Regions from separate parts of the Homo sapiens genome. Here region 1 is linked to region 2. Evidence: fine-mapped expression QTL. A gene starts in region 2. The other region holds a variant in brackets. All regions are shown on one strand. Distances are from middle to middle.

Region 1 (4,381 bases), 230 kb after region 2:
TGCTGTAAGAAGTACCACAAATGAAGCGGCTTAAAACAACAGAAACTCAGCCGGGTGCAGTGGCTCATACTTGTGATCCCAGCACTTTGGGAGGCCGAGGCAGGAGCATTGCTTGAGCCCAGGAGTTTGAGACCAGTCTGGGCAACATGGTGAAACCCCATCTCTACAAAAAATACAAATATTAGCCAGGCGTGGTGGTGCTCGTTTGCAGTCCCAGCTACTCTGGAGGCTGAGGTGGGAGGATCGCTTAAGCCCAGGAGTTCAAGACTGTAGTGAGCCATGATTGTGCCACCCAGCCTGGGAGACAGAGCAGGGCCCTGTCTCAACAAACAACAAACAATAAACTTGTATTTCTAGTCACCAAAATGTTGTGTGTATAGCATAGTTTATTATATTCAAAACACTTTCAAATTTTTTTAATCTTCATAATGTCTACTCTGGGAAAAACAGGATAAACATTGTTACACTAACCTTTTTTTCTGGTTGCAAATGTAAGACATGGTCATTGCATCACTGCAAAACACAAGGACAAGAGGCCAGGTGCAGCGGCTCATACCTCTAATCCCAGCAAGGCCTCCCACCTTTGGGAGGCCGAGGTGGGCGGGTCGCCTGAGGTCACGAGTTTGAGACCAGTCTGGGCAACATGGTGAAACCCCATCTCTACTAAAAATACAAAAATTATCTGGACGTGGTGGCGCACACCTGTAGTCCAGCGACTTGGGACGTTGAGGCAGGAGAATCGCTTGAACCTGGGAGGCGGAGGTTGCAGTGAGCTGAGATTGAACCACTGCACTCCAGCCTGGGTGACAGAGCAAGACCCCATCTCAAAAAAAAAAAAAAAAAGTTATTTGTTAATATCACCGTCAAGCTCATCAGAAAGTACTGGGAAGCCTTTCACAATGGCAAAATTCTTTTTTTTTTCTTGGCCCGGGCACAATGGCAAAATTGTTATTCTTACTTCAAAGCTCAAATTTTATCACTGGTAACAAATGCTGTCAGTTGCTTTCCTTAAAGTGTATGGGTTTTTTTTTTTTTTTTTTTTTTGAGACGGAGCTCGCTCTGTCGCCCAGGCTGGAGTGCGGTGGCGCGATCTGGGCTCACTGCAAGCTCCGCCTCCCGGGTTCACGCCATTCTCCTGCCTCAGCCTCCCGAGTAGCTGGGACTACAGGCGCGCGCCACCACGCCCGGCTAATTTTTGTATTTTTAGTAGAGATGGGGTTTCACCGTGTTAGCCAGGATGGTCTCGATCTCCTGACCTCGTGATCCGCCCGTCTCGGCCTCCCAAAGTGCTGGGATGACAGGCGTGAGCCACCGCGCCCGGCCGGGTTTTTGTTTTTTCTTTCACTCCCCTGACATAAAATATTTGGTATTTTTCTATACCAGCAACCAATTCTCCAACCGCTAACTGGGTGTCCAATATAATACAGGTAAATTCTGACACTGCCTTCCTGGAGGGTGTGTCAGATCCTACAAATTACAAGGGCTCAATCCTAACCGACTGCCCACACTTCAGACCCCGGGAGCCAGTCCAGAGCCACTTATATTTATGACCACTGGGCTTTCTAAATCAGGGGTTCTCACAACCTGCTCTTCAGGTTAGATGATTTACTAGAATGTCTCACAGAACTCAAGAAAATTTGTATGTTTGTCAGTTCATTATAAACGAACAGCCAAGTGGAAGAGATATTCAGCCATCCCCGTTAAAGTGGAAGTAGACCTGAGTAAACTTTTATCCAGTATTGGACAATATCCTCTAAGGCGTGAAGCAATGAAAAGAATCAGACCCATAACAAGAGTGTATCTGCTTTCGGGATCTAGGAGTGCTACAATTAAATAAAAAATGAGAGTATTTTTAAACAAAGATTAATTTTAAAAAGAAAGAAAGGCTGGGCCTGGTGGCTTATGCCTGAAATCCCAACACTTTGGGAGGCCGAGGTGGGTGGATCACCTGAGGTCAGGAGTTCAAGACCAGCCTGACCAACTTGGTGAAACCCTGTCTCTACTAAAAATACAAAAATAAGTCAGGCCTGGTGGCGGGCATGTGTAATCCCAGCTACTCAGAAGGCTGAGCCAGGAAAATCACTTGAACCCAGGAGGTGGAGGTTGCAGTGAGCCAAGATCGCGCCATTGCACTCCAGCCTGGGTGACGAGAGTGAAACTCTGTCTCAAAGAAAAGCAAAAAAAGAGAAAAGGGTATAATGATCCCTTGCACAAGCCCATGTATTATAGTACTGCGATCCTTCCCATAAGGAAACCAAATGGGAGGATCTGGCATTTTGTACAAGACCCCAGAGCTATCGACAACATTGTGATTCCACGACATGGGTGCTACCAAAGCCTCCCACTCTGGCAGCCACCGTCCCTGCAGAAGCGAGGTATTGACTGTGGCTGATATATGCAGTGCTTTCTCCAGTAGACACAGAGTCGGCTCGTTTTCTTTTACATGACAGGACCAGCAGTATACCTCAA[C/A]CATCATGCCCTAAGGACACACCAAGGGTCCCACCTATGTTTCTTTTTTTGCTTTGAGATGGAGTCTCACTCTGTCACCCAGGCTGGATGGAGTGTGGTGGCGTGATCTCAGCTCATCGCAACCTCCACCTCCCCGGTTGAAGAGATTCTCCTGCCTCAGCTTCCCAAGTAGCTGAGACTACATGTACACACCCAGCTAACTTTTGTATTTTTAGTAGAGATGGGGTTTCACCATGTTGGCCAGGCTGTTCTTGCACTCCTGACCTCAGGTGATCTGCCCATCTCGGCCTCCCAAAGTGTTGGGATTACAGGCGTGAGCCACTGTGCCCGGCCTGCAGGCAACACTTTTTTCTCTTTTTATTTATTTATTTTTTGAGACAGAGTCTCACTCTGTTGCCCAGGCTAGAGTGCAGTGGCACAATTTCAGCTCACTGCAAACTCCTCCTACCAGGTTCAAGCGATCCTCCCAGCTAGGTCTCCCAAGTAGCTGGGATTTCAGGTTGCACCACCATGCCCAGCTAATATTTGTATTTTTACTAGAGACGGGGTTTCACCATGTTGGCCAGGCTGGTCTCTAACTCCTGGCCTCAAGTGATCCTTCCACCTTGGCCTCTCAAAAGGCTGAAATTATAGCCACTGTTCCTAGCTCAGCATTTTCCACCTGGTGGATGTCCAAGTTTCTGAAAAATAACTCAAGAACATATGTTAAGCTGTTATATTTTAGTTTCCACAGGGAATCAAAACACCTTGTGACTCTGACTTACTTGGGAGACTATTGTTTTTTTGTTTTTTTTTTTTTTCTTTGAGACAGAGTCTCGCTCTGTTGCCCAGGCTGGAGTGCAGTGGTGCGATCTCAGCTCCCTACAACCTCCGCCTCCCAGGTTCAAGCGATTCTCCTGCCTCAGCCTGCCACGTAGCTGGGATTACAGGTGTGAGCCACCACACCCAGCTAATTTTTTTTTTTTTTTGAGATGGAGTCTCGAGGCTCTGTCGCCCAGGCTGGAGTGCAGAGGCGCGATATCAGCTCACTGAAAGCTCCGCCTCCTGGGTTCACGCCATTCTCCTGCCTCAGCCTCCCGAGTAGCTGGGACTACAGGCACCCACCACCACGCCCGGCTAATTTTTTGTATTTTTAGTAGAGACGGGGTTTCACCATGTTAGCCAGGATGGTCTTGATCTCTTGACCTTGTGATCCACCCGCCTCGGCCTCCCAAAGTGCTCAGATTACAGGCGTGAGCCACTGCCCCCGGCCGGGAGACTATTGTTTAAGCTGTTTCTATCTTCTTCCTCATCAGATTGTTCCTTTGCCTGTCAAGGGTGGCGAGGTGCCTGGAATTTCCCTTAGAGGAACTCAGGACTCAAGATTCTTTTGTTTTGTTTTGAGACAGTCTTGCTCTGTCGCCCAGGCTGAAGTGCAGTGGCATGATCTTGGCTCGCTGCAACCTCAGCCTCCTGGGTTTACATGATTCTCCTGCCTCAGTCTCCCAAGTAGCTGAGATTACAGGCGCCCGTCACCATGCCTGGCTAATTTTTTTGTATTTTTAGTAGAGACGGGGTTTCACCATTTAGCCAGGCTCGTTTTGAACTCCTGACCTCAACGAATCTGCCCGCCTCGGCCTCCCAAAGTGCTGAGATTACAGGTGTGAGCCACTGTGCCTGGACCTTTTTTTACCTTTGGAGACAGACTCTCGCTCTGTTGCCCAGGCTGAGTGCAGTGGCACAATAACAGCTCACTTCAGCCTTGACCTCCTGGTCTCAAGTGATCCTCCCACGTCAGCCTCCTGAGTAGCTGGGACTACAGGCATGTGCCGCCACACCTGGCTAACTTTTTAGCTTTTGCGGAGATGGGGTCTTGCTATATTGTCCAGGCTGGTCTCAAACTCCTGGACTCAAGCGATCCTCTTGCCTTGGA
Region 2 (4,381 bases):
AAGGCGGGCAGATCACCTGAGGTCAGAAGTTCGAGACCAGCTTGACCAACATGGAGAAACCTCCATCTCTACTAAAAATACAAAATTAGCCGGGCATGGTGGCGCACGCCTGTAATGCCAGCTACACGGGAGGCTGAGGCAGGAGAATCGCTTGAACCCAGAAGGCAGAGGTTGCGGGAAGCCATGATCGCGCCATTGTACTGCAGCGTGGGCAACAAGAGCGAAAATCCGTCTCAAAAAAAAAAAAAAAAGTAGAAAGACCAATTAACCTGGCATGGTGCGCCTGTAGTCTTATAGTCCCAGCTACCTGGGAGGCTGACGCAGGAAGATCGCTTGAGCCCAGGAGTTGAAGATTGCAGTAAGCTATGATTGCACCACTGCACTCCAGCCTGGGAGACAGAGGGAGACGCTGTCCCCAAAAAAAAAATTAAAAAAAAAAAAAAAAAAGGCCAGGCGCGGTGGCTCACGCCTGTAATCCCAGCACTTTGGGAGGCCGAGGTAAGCAGATCACGAGGTCAGGGTATCAAGACCGTCATGGCTAACAGTGAAACCCCGTCTCTACTAAAGATACAAAAAATTAGCCGGGCATGATGGCGGGCGCCTGTAGTCCCAGCTAGTTGGGAGGCTGAAGCAGGAGAATGGCAGTGAACCCGGGAGGCGGAGCTTGCAGTGAGCCGAGATCTAGCCACTGCGCTCCAGCCTGGGCGACAGAGTGAGACTCCATCTCAAAAAAACAAAAACAAACAAACAAAAAACACCCTCCAGAATAATGCAGCACCTAGGAATTATAAAGCTTAATATGTAGCCGGGCACAGTGGCTCACGCCTGTAATCCCAGCACTTTGGGAGGCTGAGGCGGGCGGATCACAAGGTCAAGAGATCGAGACCATCCTGGGCAACATGGTGAAACCCTGCCTCTACTAAAAATACAAAAATTAGCTGGGCCTGGTGGCGCGTGCCTGTAGTCCCAGCTACTCAGGAGGCTGAGGCAGCAGAATCGCTTGAACCCGGGAGGTCGAGGTTGCAATGAGCTGAGATCGCGCCACTGCACTCCAGCCTGGCGTCAGAGCAAGACTCCGTCTCAAAAAAATAAAGAAAGAAAGAAAGAAAGAAAGAAATTTAGCATCCCTCTCTAGAGCCCCAAAATGCAAGGCAGACTTTTATCATCTTCTCAAGATTTTAATCTCCTGGGCTCGCTCCACGCCCCTCAGTGGCCATCTCATACTGCTCTGGGGAGACTGTTCTGGAAACAGGCCTGGTATGCTGGGTGTGCCCCTGACTCACTCCACCCCCTCTCCATGAGGCAACCCCTAAGCAGGCTGAGCTCCGAGCAGAGTTGCTGCCCAAGGGGAGCTCTGCTGAACGCGAAGACCCCTTCTCTGCTCGGGAGCCGCCCTCAACACCTCGGACTGGGTCCAGGGCCAGACAGCGTGAACCCGAGGGCCCCGCGCAGGGACCGGGGGGTGGCAGAGCAAGCAAGAGCAGGGCACGGGGTGGGCGGCATAAGCGAGACCTGCTGGGAGCGACAGAACCCAAACTACGGGAGCAACGGCGGGCGCCAGGGAACCACACCTCGGAACGGTCCCAGGGGAGACCAGGAGGGCGGCTGGAGAGAGCCCAGGAAGCGGTCTGGGCCGCGGGCAAAAAACACACCACGACCATCATAAGCTTCGAGGTCAGTGGCCCCGGGAGCTGAAGAGGGGCCGCGGGGTGGGTGAACCGAGACCGAGAGGACAGAGAGTCGCAGACGCGACCCCGGGAGACGGAGAACAACGGGCAGCCTGGGCCCATCTGCGGCGAAGGGGCCGGGCCCGGCAGGTACCTTGGCCGGCGGAGTCCATGTTCGGGCGGCGTCCGGACCGCTGTCGCGGGCGCTATGGGAGCCGAGCGGGCGGCGCCGGGAGAAGCTCGCCGCGTACACACTAGCCAGCGGAACTGCCTCAGCTCCGCGGCGTTTCGTAATCCGCGATGCGACGGCTACTTCCGCCCGGGCACGTGCTCCGCCTTCTTCCCGCCCCCACCAGTGATATCCAATGAGAGTGCCGCTTGGCCCGTCCTGGTTTACCCGACTCAACCTGATAGGCCGAAACTGCGGGCGAACCAGGAAAGGGAGGCGTGGTTCGGCGGGAATCCATTCCAGGTTGACTCCACCAGCGAGAATCACAGGTAGAACGGTCAGAGTAGCGGGAGGACTGGGAAGGTGGGAAGTGGGAGGACCGTCCAACATGGCGCTGTGGAAAGCCAGCGCAGGGCCCCAGGGGATCTTCCGGGGCGGATGCAGCTGCCTAGGAGTGCTGGGGCTCGCGCGCCTCGGCGGCTCAAACTCTGACCCCTTGAGATCCTTTCCAGCCCGACCCCTTACTTTAGGGGTCAGCCTGCCCCCGTAAGTCCTGTTATTTATTGTATTTATATTCTTTTTTTAGTTGGTCCTTTTTTGTTTGTTTTTGAGACGGAGTTTCACTCTTGTTGCCCAGGCTGGAGTGCCATGGCGCGATCTCAGCTCACTCCAATCTCTGCCCTCCGGGTTCAAGCGATTCTCCAGCCTCAGCCTCCCGAGTAGCTGGAATTACAGGCGCGCGCCAACACGTCCGGCTAATTTTCGTATTTGTAGTAGAGACGGGGGTTTCGCCACCTTGGCCAGGCTGGTCTAGAACTCCTGACCTTAGGTGATCCACCCGCCTCGGCCTCCTAAAGTGCTGGGATTACAGGCGTGAGCCACCGCCCCTCACGCCTGGCTAGTTTGTCCTTTTCATGGGGACTTTTTATTGTACGCGGGTTACTCTGAAAAAGATCGCGATTCGTCCCCTCGCCCTGCAGGCGCCGCTGCCGCCTCGCCTCGGGCGTGGACCCTGCGGCTCGGGCCTGCGCGTGTGCACCCCGAGGTTGTCTCACTTCCTGTTCAGGGCGACCAGCGCTGCGCCCTCCCCACTCCACAGATGAGGAAGCTGAGGTTAAAGTCACTTGCCCCAGGTCACTCCGCAAGTTGAAGCGCAACCAGGATACTCTGGAACAGGATGCCTGACTTCAGAGGAGAGGCGCGTAACCACCAGGCAACTGGCCCCACGAAAACAAGTCCCGCAACTTCCCTTCTTTGGCTCCTACTTGCTCCCGGAAGAAAAGCCTTAAACGGTATTCAAGCCCTTTAGGATCTGATGTCCTAGGACTCCACTCTGGGCTTCCAGCCTGGGGTGGTACTGGTCCCTAGGCATGGAAGCTCCTCCCACTGCCCCTTCCTTCACCCGGCCACCTCCTCCCACAGGTGTCTTCCTGGTACTCTTGCACAGGCCCGAGTCCCTTACCACCACGGCCTTAGCCTGCTCTCGTGCTCTCAGTAATGTTTTCTCCATTTGCTGCCTTTCATTCTTTCCAGAGATTCTTGCTCAACCCAACCAGGCCAGCCCGGGGACTAGGGACATGTAGGGACAATAGTCCCTGCTTCAGGCAGTTCAGGGCAGACCACAGAGATGTGACATTACAGACCATTGTGAGCAGAGGCCTTGTCCCATTCTGTGTTGCATCCCTAAGCCAGGAACAAAGTCCAGCCCAGGCCTGGCTCCAGGGGACACGCAGTAGTATCCTCTGGCCTGTGCAAGTGTATCTGTAGCCTCACATGCCACCATGTGAGTCTGCAATCTGTCTGTGAATGCCCTGGTGTAGAAGCCAGGAGTTTGGAGGTGGGAGGGAGCCCTACAGAATGATAGCCAGTGCTAACTCCTGGGAATGTCCAGCCACTAAGACCTGCCCACAGCCCTGCCATGCCAATGTCCTCCTTTTCACGGGAGCAGCTTGCACAGACTTTCAGCGCACAGCTGGCATTGTCTTCCCAGGAGCCATCCTGTAACCCAGGCCAGGTGAAGGGCTCCTCCCTGGGACCCCACAGCCCCGTTCCCATCATCCTTTTGTGGTGATCAAGGCACCCATCACACAGTATTGCCATAAACCGGGTCAGGTTAACCTTTCATTCCCTTAGGAGCTGGGTGGGGGCAGCCAAAAGTATTTGTAGGAGGAAGAGAGAAAGGAGGGGACAGAGCTAGGAAGAATGGGAGGACGGTCAGAACGCCCCTGTGAAGGAAGGAGAGCACCAAGTCCCCGTGTTCTGCCTACCCTCCCCCAGACAGCAGATCAGGAGCACCCCGCGCGCCCCCCCCCGCCCCGCCCCGCGTCGGCGCCGGCCCCCTGCAATGGTTGGCGGTATGGGGAGGTGAACCAAGAAGGCCAGGAGTTCAAGTGCGTGATCCCCCACTGGGGCATATAGGTTACAGCCGCCAGGGCAACTGAAACTCCTCAGGCTCCAGAGGGCTGAAGTGAGTCGCCTCCACGTTCTTGAGGTGCTTCCGAGCCAGGAACAGTGCGAGGCGCCGGCGCCGCCGCGAGCTCAGGCC

Evidence for each region. PIP is the estimated chance that this variant, and not a neighbour inherited with it, causes the effect. A credible set is the group of variants that fine-mapping cannot tell apart.
Region 1: its variant is the best candidate, but not a certain one, in a credible set for the expression of TPD52L2 in whole blood (TOPMed, PIP 0.53).

What each region holds. Positions count from the first base shown.
Region 1 is chr20:63,631,061-63,635,441 of GRCh38, reverse strand. No RefSeq gene overlaps it. Among named protein-coding and RNA genes, the nearest start is that of MHENCR, 6.0 kb to the right of the region's middle. RefSeq lists a cis regulatory region at 3,792 and an enhancer at 3,708-3,877. The variant C/A (reference allele first, on the strand shown) is at 2,470.
Region 2 is chr20:63,862,825-63,867,205 of GRCh38, reverse strand. It overlaps TPD52L2 (TPD52 like 2), which reads right to left and starts at 1,936. Exons shown (of 7, transcript NM_003288.4): 1 at 1,822-1,936. The coding sequence starts at 1,840. It overlaps ABHD16B-AS1 (ABHD16B antisense RNA 1), which reads left to right and starts at 2,133. Exons shown (of 2, transcript NR_165314.1): 1 at 2,133-2,382; 2 at 2,936-4,381. It overlaps ABHD16B (abhydrolase domain containing 16B), which reads right to left. Exons shown (of 1, transcript NM_080622.4): 1 at 4,218-4,381. The coding sequence ends at 4,256. RefSeq lists enhancers at 485-1,204, 1,926-2,646, 1,686-2,885, 2,979-3,208 and a silencer at 2,469-2,518.